2 separate regions of the Homo sapiens genome follow, and region 1 is linked to region 2. Evidence: fine-mapped expression QTL. Tissue or cell type: whole blood. Region 2 holds a variant in brackets; the other region holds the start of a gene. All regions are shown on one strand. Distances are from middle to middle.

What was found. PIP is the estimated chance that this variant, and not a neighbour inherited with it, causes the effect.
Region 1: it holds the start of DSP, and the variant in region 2 is fine-mapped to the expression of DSP in whole blood (TOPMed, PIP 0.92).

What each region holds. Positions count from the first base shown.
Region 1 is chr6:7,538,638-7,546,741 of GRCh38, forward strand. DSP (desmoplakin) reads left to right here and starts at 3,034. Exons shown (of 24, transcript NM_004415.4): 1 at 3,034-3,448. The coding sequence starts at 3,279. It overlaps DSP-AS1 (DSP antisense RNA 1), which reads right to left and starts at 4,446. Exons shown (of 2, transcript NR_183331.1): 1 at 4,409-4,446; 2 at 1,814-2,416. RefSeq lists an enhancer at 1-1,022.
Region 2 is chr6:7,434,102-7,442,205 of GRCh38, forward strand. The region is part of intron 2 of LOC102724234 (a long non-coding RNA gene); the gene reads left to right. Among named protein-coding and RNA genes, the nearest start is that of RIOK1, 48 kb to the left of the region's middle. The variant G/A (reference allele first, on the strand shown) is at 4,736.

The DNA.
Region 1 (8,104 bases), 100 kb after region 2:
TGTGTGTGTGTGTGTATGTGCATGTGTGTGGGTGTGTGTTGAGGTGGGGGGTGTTCCATCTGTCGGGCATGTCAATCTGTTTATTTTATCCTCTTATCTTTCTTTATCACCCTTAGAGAAAGATAAATGAAAGCCACTGTCTTCCTAGAGCAGGCATGTTTGGTAGCTGGAAGCCGTTCGTGTTCTTGGGGATGCCTGGAAAAGCCCAGGAAGCAGTAAGATGGGTGAGGAAGCAACGCAGCCAGAGGTGTGATTGGTGGCGTGGGCTCTTCGCCTCCTCCTCTGTTTTGCCTGCAGATTGAACAGTTTTGTGAGTCTGGGTGGTGTTTGGGTCTGTGTGGAGCCTGGTTCCTATGACCGTAAGGGGACCCTTGGCTAACAAGAGCTTTTGTTACCACTGGGGGGGTGGTTAATAGATATGTGGGTTTTTTTTAAAAGGATAATTCTACCGTGCAATTGTGTAGCCTCTTTATTACACATTAGGGAAGAATAATCCCTGAATTTTTTTTTTTTTTTTTTTTTTGAGACAGAGTCTTGCTCTGTTACCTGGGCTGCAGTGCAATGACACGATCTCTGCTCAATATAATCTCCACCTCCTGGATTCAAGTGATACTCGTGCCTTTGCCTCCCAAACAGCTAGGATTACAGGCGCCTGCCACCACACCCAGCTAATTTTTGTATTTTTAGTAGAGATGGGGTTTCATCATGTTGGCCAGGCTGGTCTCGAACTCCTGACCTCAAGTGATCCACCCGCCTCTGCCTCCCAAAGTGCTGGGATTACAGGCATGAGCCACCGCACGGGCCCCTGAATTTCTTAAATCAAAGTTTTACTATAATATATTTAAGGGCAGTGACTGGACCCTATTTATCTTTGTATGTTGCAGAGTATTTCCATATCCTAGGTTATAATTATTTGCTGAACAAATGAGATGCATAGAGGGAAAACATCCTAAATGAAATGTTGTACATTATGCACTGACATTTTCCCTCCATGCATGTCTTTCTCTCCTCCACCAATGGATATTATGGGCTGTTTGTGCAGAGGCTGACTTCCAGCCATTGATTCTGTTTGAGAAAAACCACCGTCTTGTCTATAGATCAGTGTTTGTACAGGTTGAGCATCCCTAATCTGAAAATCTGAAATCCAAAATGCTCCCAAATCCAAACTTTCTGAGCACTGACATGATGACCACAAGTGGCGAATTCCACACCTGACCTCATGTGATGACTTGCAGTCAAAGTGCAGTCAAAACTTTGTTTCATGCACAAAATTATCTAAAATATTGTATAAAATTACCTTCAGGCCATGTGTATAAGGCATATAGAAAACATAAATAAATTTCATGTTTAGGCTTGAGTTCCATCCCCAAAGATCTCTCGTTACGTCTATGCAACTATTGCAAAATCCAAGAAAATCCAGAATCCAAAATATTTCTGGTCCCAAGCATTTTGGATAAGGGGTACTCAATCTGTATAATCATTTAAACACTTGACCACTTTGGTTTTATTAAAGATTCGAGGAAATTGAGACTACGATGCAAATTATTGGTTGTGCTAACAGTGATAAACTTTTATCTCATTATATGTGTTTACTCCTTGAATTTAAGACGTTCAGCTGTAAAAAGAAAAAGAACAAGACATTTTGTCAAAAATTATGCCTAAAGGGTCAAGTTGTCATGAGAAGTGCTATAATACGACAAATTTTAGAAAGTCCCCCCCACTCCCTTTACAACATAAAAATGTAGTTTTTTATTTTTGTTTTCAGTTCATAAACATTTTGGAAACGCACTGTATCAGAAGGTAATTAGCGGCATTGTTTGGAAAGATGAAAAATTTATTAGAAAAGATCTTTAAATGGCTTTTACTAAAGCGTCATTTAACAATTTTTCATATTATAGAAACAGCTTTTCATGGATGGTGTGACTGGGTCTGTATCCAAACCCGGTTCGGTTCCTGGAGCCAACGGCGTAGTTAACACTCAGCCTCTTGCAGTTAACACTCAGCCTCTTAACTGGGAGTGGCCCTGGAGCAAGTCGCTGGAATGTTCAAGCTCCGCGTCACTCATCGGTACCAAGTTGATGATCTCTGCCTAGGGTTCTTCGCCACCCTCAGGCTCAAGTCCCAGGAGGCCTCCTCCGCTGACTTGGGTGAACAGCTCTGAGTTCCGGAGAGGGTTCGGTCTGCGGAGAAGCGCGCGAGAGACAAGCATCCTCAAGGTTCTGGTACAAAATTTGGAAAATGGACCTGGCGTTGAAATCTTTACTCCTCGTTTAAAAAGACCATCGAAAGGGAAAAAATAAAAGAAATTGCAGTTTATATTTTTGTTATCCCATGAAAAATTAGCTGCAGTGTTTTCCTCTTCATGCCAAAGAGATTAATATTTACGGTGAAGACTTTTCCAGGAAGTCGTGGTTTTCTGTAAAAAAAGGTTTTACACATCAGAAATCGGACTTCTGGGGCAATTTCCTGAATTCCTGGAATAAAACAAAACAAAAAAAAGCCCCCAAACAAAACTCTATCATCTAAAGCGTTCCCTCCTCACTGTGGTCCTAGTCAATGCGTGGTAGGTAGCGTTTCCAGTGATCAACAAAAGTAAATATTTGACCAGTAAGTCTCCAATCGAGAGGCCCCTCCATTCCAGCTATTTCCGCCCGGGGACCGAGGAAATCCTCAAAAGCCGGGCCACGCATTCCCAGCCCGAGAGGCCCCAGCGCAGAGCGCAGCAGCCCCCGCGAGCGCAGGTCCTCCCCGCGGTGGCTTCGCCCAGGGCGCTTGGGTCTCGGGGACCCCGCCCCCGCCCCGCCCGGTGTTACTCAGGCCTCGGTGGCGCAGGGCGGAGTCGCGGGCGGCGGGCGCAGGTGGGGAGGGGCGGCCGGAGCGCGTCGGTGACACCCGCGGGGGGGCGGGGAAGGCGCGGCGGCCGCACCCCACCCTGGGAAGAAACCGGCCAGGTGTGGCCTAGGCGCCCAGTGCCAGCGGGGAGGAGACTCGCTCCGCCGCCGACCAACACCAACACCCAGCTCCGACGCAGCTCCTCTGCGCCCTTGCCGCCCTCCGAGCCACAGCTTTCCTCCCGCTCCTGCCCCCGGCCCGTCGCCGTCTCCGCGCTCGCAGCGGCCTCGGGAGGGCCCAGGTAGCGAGCAGCGACCTCGCGAGCCTTCCGCACTCCCGCCCGGTTCCCCGGCCGTCCGCCTATCCTTGGCCCCCTCCGCTTTCTCCGCGCCGGCCCGCCTCGCTTATGCCTCGGCGCTGAGCCGCTCTCCCGATTGCCCGCCGACATGAGCTGCAACGGAGGCTCCCACCCGCGGATCAACACTCTGGGCCGCATGATCCGCGCCGAGTCTGGCCCGGACCTGCGCTACGAGGTGACCAGCGGCGGCGGGGGCACCAGCAGGATGTACTATTCTCGGCGCGGCGTGATCACCGACCAGAACTCGGACGGCTACTGGTGGGTACCTGCCCGGAGAGCGCGGGCTGCGGGGCTCGCGGGACAGGGAGGGACCGTCCTCCTCTGGACGACTGGGAGACTCGGGTCCCGAAGGTGGAAAGGTTTTTTTGCCCCAGGTCCCGAAAGAACTTCCCGGCCGCGCTGGGAGCAGGACCGGGTGTCCTGACGCGTGCGGGGACAGGTTGGCCCCTGTCCTGCGAACAGGGACTCGGTCGTACCTTTCTCCCCTCCCGCGAGCCCGGGCGGGTGGTCAGAGGGGGCGTCGGGCCCGCGCGGGGCTGTCCCCTGCCTGCTGGACACGGCTGCAGCCGCCTTTGTCCCAGCCCGCGAATGGGAGGTCAGGCGAGGTGGGGCTGCGACCACAAAACCCAACCTCTCCAACCGTAATCAAAGTAAAAGAGGAAAGGAGCGGGGCCCCGGTCCTGTCTGGTGGCCGAGTGGTGCTCGGGGCTCCGCAGTCTCTACCGGCTCACCCCCAATCCCCAGTAACCCCGAGACCACGACTGCAACGACTCCTGGACTCCTCGGCCACCCAAGGACGTTTGTATCAAGGCTGCGCGTCCCGGCGGCGCGGGGTCCTGTCCCGAGGAGGCGCTTCGGCTTCCCCTGTCCGGGAAACGAAACTTCCCCGCCGGGGCGGCTGCCGGGCCCGGGTCTCGAAGTTCGGCCGGGACGTGCCTGTTACCTTCGGTCGTCCGCGCCGCAGCCCCCGCGGGCGAGCGCACCTGGGGCCCTGCCTCTGAGCCTTTTGTTTCCTCCTTTTTAAAAACACCGGATGAAAGACCCCAGTGTGCCTTGGATCGCAGAGCGCCGGCCGCATGTCTGCTTTGATCCAGAATGTGTGGGCAGGGGAGTGGGGGGGTGGGAGAGGACGACGCTGGGGGCCCGCCCTGGCCTAGGCGCCCCGGGAAGACCCCCCGGTGAGAGGGTCAGCTTCTCCGGATCCCAGCGGAAACAGACCGAGGGCGTCATTTGGGTGGGTGGGGAAGAGATCCTGTCCCTGCTTTGACCGGGTCTCGGGAGCTGGACTCTAGATGCCCACGTGAGCCGTGCGCGTTTTGCAGCCCGCCCCACCTCCCCGCCCCCTGCTAGTTGTTCCCACGTCGGGCTTTTGGGAAAGAGGCCCTGAGCGCCGGGACGTTATTTACCAGGCGTTGTGGCCCTAGGCCTGGGAGGAGCAACCTGAATGCGCTCCAGGGAGTTTTGTTTTGCAAGCAGTTTTGAAGGCAGGGACTACTCGAGTTGCAACCTGTTTTCTGCTTAGATTCATTTATTTATTTATGGGGCATCCTGAAAATCTATTTTCGCTTTTTTTTTTTTTTTTTTTTTTGAGTTAGCAAAGAATTGTCTCAATCTTGGAGTTCTTTGTTTCCTGAACAAAATGTGTCTGGGGATTTCCAGGGAAAATGTGCCAAGCAATAGAAGGAATGAAAACTTGGGTTTTCATTACATTTGTTTTAAAATTTTGCCAGCCATTTAAATCTGAAATTTAAATTTTCTCCCGCAGTCCTCCAGGATTTGAGATGCACATCCTTTAAATGTGTGGGTTACACACAGTTTAAATCCAAGTCAGAATAGAATGCGAAGGACTCTTTAGTAGCTCTTTTTGGCGTTTTCATGAACCAAGTATTTATTTTGATTATTATTTATAACTATGCTTTTGCTAGCTTGGATTTCTTATCTTTTAAATAGACAATAATCAGTACTATTAATCGAATATTTCACTCCCTTGGCTTCTTATACCTTTTGTAGGGGAGTAAAACTTTAATAAATTAAGTGGTTAATGAACTGCATCAAGGTACATGTTTTATTAGGATTCCCCATTGAAACATTTAATTTTGGGCAGGCTCCATGTTTTTTCCTTGTGTAGTATCATCCCGTGCTCTGTTTTTCCAACTTAAAGCCTACTTACAAACTTGTCAAGTCTCACATCTCTCTGGGAAGGGGAAAGAGACCCAAGTGAAAAATTACCTGACTTTGAGGAAGGATGTTTTTTCTTCTCATTAATGTTGCTCTGCCCGGCAGCAGGGCGTCAAGCTCAGGGCTTGAGTCGGGAGGCGGTCATTCTTTCCGGGGATCCTGGCAATGGAGGTTCCTCTCGAGCCTGACCCAGCCTGCAGTGGTGCTACTGACTACAAAATAGCCCACAAATGCTGACTTCTGCGTTTTCAAATAATAGCGACCGCCTGAAGGCAGGGCATGTCGCAGTTTTTCTGGTGGCATTCTGGTTTTGTGTGGAGGGATATGTTTGGCTGTGGCGTGCACTTTGTAGAAGCAGGGTGCCCTCTGTGCCCAAGGGAGCCACTGCTCTCTGCTAAGTGAATGATGATTAAGAATTTCATAAGTATTTTTCTGACCCGAAGGTTTTCTAAATAAAGGTTTTTGTGGTTTTCTTTTCTTTCTTTCTTTTTTTTTTTTTAGCATGAAAACTAGTATAAAAACTATTGGTTGACTTTAAACTCATTTATTTCAAAAACTGCTACTTTATGGCTGAATTATTAATAGATTGGTGATTTTTGAGATGAGTGTTTTGTATCTAGCCCTTCCCTGAATAAAGAAATTTGAATGTGTGGAGGGCCCAACTCTTAGTTTTCCTTTGAAAATGACTTTAAAACATCTCTCTCTCTCTCTGTCCTTTCCACGAACAGCACTTACCCGTTTTTAGGACAGTATTAGATCTCATTGTATCCTAATTCCCTCTTTTTCCCCCGACCACCTGCCTGTTCTTTGTGTCTTTGTTTTAGATTGAATGGAATCTGCAACTACTTAATTTTGTTAACATTTGGTAAATGTTACAACCTTGATAATGAAATAATAGACATGTACATGTTTTGAAATGTAAATTTTGGATTCTTCTTGGATAGGACATTATATTAATACTGTTTTCAATTACAGCAGAATTACTCTAGTCTTATTCCTGTCATTAAAACAAATTATAAATAGTGAAATTTGTTACCAAAGTAACAAAGTCTCACAGTTAGATCTTTCTTTCACCCATCAAAGGGTGAATTTGTGGGAGGATTAAAAGCAGAAAATAGTCATTAAGTTTCAGAAATATGTGGTTATAATATTAATGCTTATTTTTCTTCAGATCTCATGATTTCAAAACTGAGATACGTGTGATCATTATTTCATATACATTTTAAAGTTAGTCTTAAATTAGGTTTTAAGAGAAGCTTATTTCTTACTATGAGACAAACAGGTCAATTTGCCTGAATTTTAGAGCGGGGGGACCCCTAAGGATCACTTAGCCTAGGCAGAAACCCCACACGCACACTTCAGAGACAGGAAGCTGAGGACGTGCCGAAGATCCTAGAATCCACTTAGGGCTGGGTTGGCCTGAGGACCCAAGGATCCTCACCTTGGTTTTCCCTGTGCCTTCACAGCCTGACTTTTAGAATGGACAGGCCTGTAATTACACCATGCAAGTATCTCAAATTCCATTAATTCCTTAATTCAGCAAGTATTTACCGAGCATTGACTGCATTCTGTGTTAAGTGTCAGGGGAGATCAAGGTGGAAATCTATAGCCTTGAAAGGAGTGTAGGCCCTTCCAAGGAAGATAAGTACACGAAGACTAGCACGCAAAAGCGGAATGCACAGGAGGGGTGTACGTGACTTCAGAGACTTCACAAGGAGGTGAGAGAACATCTGTCGTGGGGGCACTGGGAAGACTTTATAAAGGAAGTGGTGTCGAACTAGACTTTGGAGTATTTCAGCTGTGTCAGGATGGGTGGGCAGAGAGCCTTCCAGAGGGAGAGAAGAGCATGAGAAAAGTCTGCGAAGCCTGTGGAGTGATCTCCTTTTAGAGCATTCTCTCTGAGCAGGGAGGCAGTAAGATGAAAGGAAGAAGCATCCTTTTTTGACCAAGGCATTGGAGACCTTGAATGCCCCGGAGAGGGATTTGGATAGGCAGAGGGAAGCTGGTGCAGGTTTTCACTGAAGCCATTGAAAGTCTCCTCCATTGGAGGAGCAGGGAAGTGAGACGATCATAACTGAGCTTCTGGACTGTTTAGGCGTTGGCTTAAGGAAGCCATTGCACCAGTGAAGGAGGGAGGGAATGAAAGTCTGAACCAGGGTGAGGGCAGTGGATGGAAAAGTAGGTATTGCCAAGGTGGAGTGACAGCTTCAGCTAAGAATTGGATGCGAGAGACAAGGGAGAGTCTGAGAAAACAGGCCCAGAGCTCGAGTGACTCATAGCGTAGATAGTCTAAACACTTTTCTGGGAAATTATTGCAAAGCAAGATTTAGTTTAGCTTAATATACGGCAGGTAACATTTACATGGTTATTAAATTTAACTTGTATATTTTATAAAAATATCAGGTCTGTGGTTAATAATAGTTACCATTACCCAGCAAATACCTGTGATGTGCCTTGTATAGGATGTTTGTTATCTCAAGCCTCATAACAAACTTCCCAGTTTACAGATGGGAAGCTGAGGTTAAAATATTTAAATGGCTTGCCTAAGGTCACACAGCTAGTTAAGTTGTTAAGCTAGATTTGAATCCAGTATACCACAATGACGCAAGAGAAGATTAAACCTGCAGTGTGAGAATTCACCTTTTCTACTTGTAAACCCTTTTCTATCTGAGTTATTACTTATTTTTAATCTGTTGAATTCCTCAGTCTGCGTTCCTGTGAAATATTTCATAATCA
Region 2 (8,104 bases):
AAATAACTCCCATAAGCTTAGCATTCCGATAATGGAACACTAGGCATAAATGGGCTAATGACCTCTTTCCTTCCTTGGGCTCTTTTTATGTAGCTTTTATGCTGCTGGTTTTTGTTTTTTTTTTTTTTTTTTGAGTCTTACTTTGTCACCCAAGCTGGAATGCAGTAGTGCAAACATGGCTTACTGCAGCCTCAACTTCCCAGGCACAAGAGATCTTCTCACTTCAGCCCCCTAAATAGCAGGACTACAGGGGCACACCACCACACCTGGCTAATTTTTTTTTTTTTTTTTTTGGTAGAGATGGGGTTTTGCCATGTTGTCCAGGCTGTTCTCAAACTCTCCGAGCTCAAGCGATTTGTCCACCTTAGCCTTCCAAAGTGCTGGGATTACAGGCGTGAGCCACCGCGCCTGGCCTCACGCTGCATTCATAAAGAGACTTACCACACGGAGTCTGATTGGAGGTTGCAATAGAGGTTTGAAAGCTAGGAGTAAATGTTTACGTTAAACATAGACTTATGTGGCTTAGATTCTTTTCCCAACATCCCATCCTCCTATCAAAATAAAATAAAACTTCTTCCCCAGCAAGTAGAAAGTTGATGAAAATCAAAAAAACCATATAGTTCATTCACTGTATTATTTTTCTAAATTGAATATTATTCTAAGCCTATCAACAGAATGCTATTGGGGAATATACAAGGGTTATATGTTATCTCCTATCCTTAATATTGCTGTTTCTTATGCAATAACACACACGTGGACACACACACACTCACATGTTCACACTCACACACAAATGATTTGGAAAGAATGTGAGGTCTAAGTGCTAAATTGTGTGGCCCAGAGGTACATGCCATAGATGTACAGAGAAAGGAGCAAATTGCATGGATTGGAGTGGTTGGGTGGGACTGGTAGGACCAGAGCCAGACTGAGGGATGGATAGGTTTGGGTGGGGACTGGGAGGGTGAAAAGCTGAGCTACATGCCAGAGGTAGATGACAGAGAACCTGCTCTGCCTGGATGGAAGAGTGCACCAACTGGTGTGCTTCTGGTTGCAAGTAACAGTAAACCCTGACTTGCACCGAGATGATCACCAGAAATATCCCAGAACTAAAATATGAAGATAAGACAGTTTTCAGGGCCACAAAGAGGTGAAAAAAACCCGAGAAGATGGTAAGATAATCAGATTTCCACATCTGTGACACCCCTCCCCTCGTTCTACCTGGCAGCAAGTGTGTGGAAAATTTCCCCCCAACTCACTGTTTCTACACTGGTGTAAGTAAGATCAAGGTCAACAAACAGCTCCCCCACCATCTTGGGTTCCCCGGCAGGAGATCCGTTCCTTCCTTAACCCACAGGAAGCATAAAAGGAGAAATATCTCTGAGAACAGGCAGAGACAAAGGGAGGAGGCAGGACTACCATCCCCACCCTGGAAATTCTGTTCTGTAACTCAACCAAAGGAGGCACCAAGTCAGAGTGACTATTTAGCAGTACGACACTGTAGGGGGTTCAGCTCACAGGTCCCCTGGGCACAAACTCCTAGCCAGGAAGGGCAGTATACTGATCAGTTACTAGAGTCAAAGTGAACCTGGGCTTTAAGGTGCCACCCAGAGCTGAAAAGGGGGCAGTGGCCTAGCAGTGAATAACTTCTAAGCAAATATATTCAATAAAAACCCAAACAAGCTAGAGAAGACTGGAATACATAATGTTTCAATGCAAAGACAGACGTACATCCAGAAGAAACAACGGCAAACAGGGAACAACAATCCTCCAAAATGGACAAACCAAGGAACCAGTAACTGACCCCAACAGGATGGTGATATGTGAGCTCTCTGACCAATAAGTCAAATAGTAGTTTTAAGGAAACTCAGTGATCTCCAAGATAATACAGAAAAGCAATTCAGAAATTCATCAGAGAAATTTAACAAAGAGATTGAAATAACAACAAACAAACAGAAATATTGGAACTAAGAAATACATTTGCTGAATTAAAATATTCATTAGAGGCTCTCAACAGCAGAATGGATCAAGTTGAGCCAAGAATCAGTGAGCTAAAGACAGGTTATTTGAAAACACACAATTGGAGGAGAAAATAGAATAAAAAGCAATCAAGTGGCCGGGTGCAGTGGCTCATGTCTGTAATCCTAGCAATTTGGGAGGCCAAGGTGGGCAGATCACCTGAGGTCAGGAGTTCGAGACCATCCTGTCTAACATGGTAAAACCCTGTCTCTACTAAAAATGCAAAAAAAATTAGCTGGGCATGGTGGCACACGCCTGTAGTTCCATTTACTCCGGAGGCTGAGGCAGAAGAATCGCTTGAACCCAGGAGGCAGAGGTTGCAGTGAGCCGAGATCATGCCACTGCACTCCGGTCTGGGTGACAGAGTGAGACTCTGTCTCAAAAAAAAAAAAAAAAAAAGAAAAAAAGACTCCAGGGTATTTGGGCAGACAGCTCCTGTCATCTGTCTCCTCTGCCTTCTGCATTATCTCCACTCTCTTCCAAAGTGCAGATTCCTCCCTTTCCTAATTAAAGAGTATGCTTGATAGCTTTTCCCACACCTTGCCCATCATTTCCTCTCTCCTTTTTTTTTTTTTTTTTTTGGAGACAGGTCTCACTCTGTTATTCAGTCTGGAGTGCAGCGGCATGATCTTGGCTCATCACAACCTCCGCCTCCTGGGTTCAAGCAATTCTCCTACCTCAGCCTCTCGAGTAGCTGGGACTACAGGTGTGCACCACCGTGCCTGGCTAATTTTTGTATTTTTAGTAGAGATGGGGTGTCACCATGTTGGTCAGGCTGGTCTCGAACTCCTGACCTCAGGTGATCCACCTGCCTCGGCCTCCCAAAGTGCTGGGATTATAGGCGTGAGCCACTGGCCCCGGCCTATGGTGCTGTGTTCTTACAGTTCTAGAGACAGCCTCTGGTTCAGAGGAGAAAGAAGGGTCTGGTTCTACAGAGTTTCTCAATCTTGTTCTATGAGCTACTTCTTTGAGAAACAGCTTGAGCTACAGGTGTGTGTCCGTAAGCTGTTGAGACGGGCAGCTGCATGAACAGAAAGGGTGTGGGCCACTCAGATAAGGGTGACTATGAGATAAAGAAATGACAGGTCTCGGGGCTGAGTGTGGTGGCTCCTACCTGTAATCCCAGCACTTTGGGAGGCCAAGGCGGGAGGATCACTTGAGCCTAGGAGTTTGAGACCAGCCTAGGAGTTCAAAACATAGTGTGACCCCCATCTCTACAAATTTTTTTTTAAATTAGCTGGCATGGTGGCACAAGCTTACAGTTCAGCTACTAGTGAAGATGAGGGGGAAAGATTGCTTGAGCCGGGGAGATACAGGCTGCCGTGAGCCAAGATCGCATCAGTGCACTCCAGCATGGGAGACAAAGTGAGACTGTCTCAAAAAGGAAAAAAAAGAAGAAAACGAAAGAAAGAAAGAAAAGAAAAGAAGAAAGAAGAAAATAAAGGAAAGAAAGAAAAGAAAAGAAAAAAGAAGAAAATAAAGGAAAGAAAGAAAGAGAGGAAAGGAAAGGGATGGGACAGGGAGGGGAGAGGAGGGGAGGGGAGGAAAGAAAAAAGAAAAGAAAAGGACAGACAGCCACAATATGACTGAGAGAGGGTAGATTTTGACCAGATGTCTGAGCTAGGAAAAACCGTGAGGAGAGGAGACAATAAACTCCAAACCCAGTTTAAGATGGAAGTCTGGCTGGGTGTGGTGGCTTACGCCTATAATCCCAGCAGTTTGGGAGGTCGAGGTGGGCAGAAAACCTGAGGTCAGGAGTTTGAGACCAGCCTGACTAACATGGAGAAGCCGTCTCTACTGAAAATACAAAATTAGCCGGGCATGGTGGTGCGTACCTGTAACCCCAGCTACGCGGGAGGCTGAGGCAGGAGAATCACTTGAACCTGGGAGGCAGAGGCTGCGGTAAGCAAAGATTGCGCCATTGCACTCTAGCCTGGGCAACAAAAGCAAAACTCCGTCTCAATAAATAAATAAATAAATAAATAAATAAAAAGGAAGTCTTGAGAATAATCTGCTCATTTAAAGAAAAAAGAAAAAGGGAGGGGGTGGACTTTAGTTCCACATGTGTTGTGGCCTGGCTGTGAATGTGCTGTGGGTTTCCACAATAAAGGCCTGGCCAAGGACTCATCATGCCCCAAATCCTAGATGAGAAACTTTCATAAGTCAGAGGGCCTGGCCCTTCTGACTCTCAGATTCTGAAAATTAGTTTTTACCTTGATTTGGACAAGAAGATTTATTGGGTGGGGGGTTTTCCTACAAATTTGAAAACTTCTAAAAGCCATTTGAATTTTACATCTATATTGAAATATGGGAAACTGGCCTTTGTAAAGATGTTTTTCACTTCTTTTTTTTTTTTTTTTTTTCCCGAGACAGAGTCTTGCTCTGTCACTTAGGCTGGAGTGCAGTGGTGTGATCTTGGCTCACTGCAACCTCCGCCTCCTGGGTTTAAGCAATTCTCCTGCCTCAGCCTCCAGAGTAGCTGGGATTAGAGGTGTGTGTCACCATGCCTGGCTAATTTTTTTTTTTTGTATTTTTAGTAGACAGGATTTCACCATGTTGGCCTGGCTGGTCTTGAACTCCTGACCTCATGATCCACCCACCTTGGCCTCCCAAAATGCTAGGATTACAGGTATGAGCCACCACGCCCGGCCTTGTTTTTCACTTCTATAAAAAGCATTGATAGAAAGGATGCATACTTTCATGATTTAAACTTCCTATG[G/A]ATGTCTCATGTAATTAATATCATTGCTTCAAAGATGAGTTGTGAATTTCTTATGGAAATTAAATAACTCTACCTGTTTTGGATGAGAAATTTCATTCATTTTAGTGTTAGCCTACCATAATGATAGCCAGGGGATTCTGTTTCTTTATTGTGAAAAAAAGGTCTAAACTTTATATTAATGTTACTTTAGTTTAGAATAAACATTTTTTCCACTTGCAAAAACATCCAATATTGCCGTTTCACTTTTTGTCAAATGTATATGTATGTACTTATTTTTCTTTTTTAAAAGGTTTGAGACAGGGTCTCACTCTGTCACCCAGGCTGGAGTACAGTGGCTCGACCTCAGCTCACTACAACCTCTGCCTCCTGGGCTCAATCAATCTTCCCACATCAGCCTCGTAGGTAGGTGGGACTACAGGTGCACGCCACCACATCCACTTATTTTTTGTATTTTTTGTAGAGATGGGGTCTCACTGTGTTGCTCAAGCTGGTCTCAAACTTCTGGGCTCAAGCCATCTGCCTGCCTTGGCCTCCCAAGTGCTAGGATTACAGACATGAACCATCATGCCACGCCCTTATTTTTCAAAGTCAATCAAATTATTAAGTTAAAAAAAACCACTTCCCCTATACCCACTTCCCCAATTTCTCCTTTGCTAGTGTCAGTTATGTTCTTTTAACTGATTATTTTGGTATTTACCTGGATAAATTTAATTAACAAGCTTGTATTGCTTTATTTTTCAGTTTAAAACATTAGTTATTTTCTTCTATGAAAGTTGAAGATTTAGTTCTTCATTCTCCACATATTTTCACTTCTGTCCTCTTGCCTGTCATCCCAGTTATGTTTTAACTTTTATTACTTTTTGTTAGACACGGAGTCTCCCTATGCTGCCCAGAGCAGATTTGAACTCCAGGGTTCAAGCCATCCTTCTGCCTCAGTCTCCCGGGTAGCTTGGAGTTTTCACATCAATTTCCATTATTTGTGTCAGTGTGACTATCTGTGTTCAGAGTCAATCTTGTAATATTGCAACTACTTTTTTCTTTTGTGCTTAGCTATTAAGTTTCCCCCAAATTAACAACTGTCCTTTTTTTTAAAAAATTGCCTACTTTTCTGTCTGCTGTGGCTAATTCAACTCCAAACTTTCTGCTCATTGTCTGGGTCCTGTCCCAGTAGGTTCATTTTCATCATATATCCTCCCAGTTTGGTCTCCATGCAGACCCTCCGGGCTAGTTGCTCCCACGCTGGTGTCCAGCAATCATCTGGCAGGCCCCTTTTCCCGTCACACGGGGATTCTCTTCATCTCTCCACCATCAAGTCTCCAGTTCCTTGACTTATTTTTCATCTCCTTGTCATTTTACTCTGGGAGATTTCCAGTTTTACCTTGAACTTTTCATTTCTATTATATTTTTAATTTCCAATAGATCTTTCTTTGTTCTCTTGAATGCTACTTTAAAAAAACTCATTGTGGGCCGGGCGCGGTGGCTCATGCCTGTCATCCCAGCACTTTGGGAGGTTGAGGTGGGCGGATCACGAGGTCAGGAGATCGAGACCATCCCTGGCCAACATGGTGAAACCCCGTCTCTACTAAAAATAAAAAAATTAGCCTGGCGTGGTGGCGCGTGCCTGTAATCCCAGCTACTCCAGAGGCTGAGGCAGGAGAATCACTTGAACCTGGGAGGCGGAGGTTGCAGTGAGCTGAGATCACGCCACAGCACTCCAGCCTGGCGACAGAGAGAGACTCCGTCTCAAAACAAAACAAAAAACTAAAACAAAACAAAAAACCTCATTGCATTCTTCTTTTATGAATACACTCTCTTTTCTCTATATTGCTGTCATCTGGCTTTAAAAACATGCTGTCCTGACTTGGTTTTGAGTCTCTAGCTAGAGACAGGTCAGTTTCCCTTATTAATACTCGAGGGGGTTCTGGAAGTTATCTTTTCTCTGCAGTGTCCCATTTCCCCAAGTTGCTTTTCCCCCTTCCTTGCGTCTCCTTGATATTAGAGACTTTGGTGGTATGCTGCTGCATTCTTTAGGGTGTAAACATTCACACCACCCTCCCCACTGACTCTCGGGTCCTCCCCCGCAGCTGTGCCCCTGGTCCCCAGTGCAGAGACCTTCTCCTTTCCCCTCTCCTGAAAATACATCTGTCCCCAGGCTTGTGCTGCAGTGGGAAAGGGCCCGTCCAGGAGTCGGGGAGGGATCCTGGAATTTAAAAGCATCTTTAACAGCTCCTCCTCAGAAACCCAGTCACACTTCCTTCCCCGCTAGTGAGAGGTGCCAGCCTGCTGGCAGCCCCCCTTCGCTCTTGGCACCTCCTCGGCCTCGACGCCCACTCTGGCCGTGCTTGAGGAGTCCTTCAGCCTACCGCTGCACTGTGGGATCCCTTCCAGGGATGGCCGAGGCCGGAGCCGGCTCCCTTGGCTTGCGGGGAGGTGTGGAGGGACAGGCACGGGCAGTAACCGGGGATGCGCGCGGCGCTTGCGGGCCAGAGCGAGTTCTGGGTGGGCTTGGGCTCGGCCGGCCCCGCCGGCCCAGGCAGTGAGGAACTTAGCACTTGGGCCAACAACGGCTGTCCTCGATTTCTTGCCAGGCCTTAGCTGCTTCCCCATGGGGCAGGGCTCGGGACCTGCAGCCCACCATGCCTGAGCCCCCCGTCCCAACCCCGCCCTGGGCTCCTGCACAGCCCGAGTCTCCTGAGCCTCCCGGACGAGCGCCGCCCCCTACTTCACAGCACAGAGTCCCATTGACCGCCCAAAGGACTAAACAGTGCGGGTCCACGGGCGGGACTGACAGCTCTACCTGCGGCCCCGCTGGGGAATACCACCGGGTGAAGCCAGCTGGGCTCAGTCAGTCTGGTGGGGACTTGAACAATCTTTATGTCTAGCTAAGGGGTTGTAAATACACCAATCAGCACTCTGTATCTAGCTCAAGGTTTGTAAACACACCAATCAACACCCTCTGTCTAGCTCAGGGTTTGTGGCTGCACCAATCGGCACTCTGTATCTAGCTAATCTGGTGGGGACTTGGAGAACCTTTTTATCTAGCTAAGGGATTGTGAATACACCAATCGGCACTCTGTATGTAGATGAAGGTTTGTAAATGCACCAATCAGCACCCTGCGTCTAGCTCAAGGTTTGTAAATGCACCAATCGGCGTTCTGTGTCTAGCTGATCTGGTGGGGACTTGCAGAACCTTTATGTCTATCTAAGGGATTGTGAATGCACCAATCGGCACTCTGTATCTAGCTCAAAGTTTGTAAATGCACCAATCAGCACTCTGTGTCTAGCTCAGGGTTTGTAAATACACCAATTAACACTCTGCATCTAGTTAATCTAGTGGGGACGTGGAGAACTTTTGTGTCTAGCTCAGGG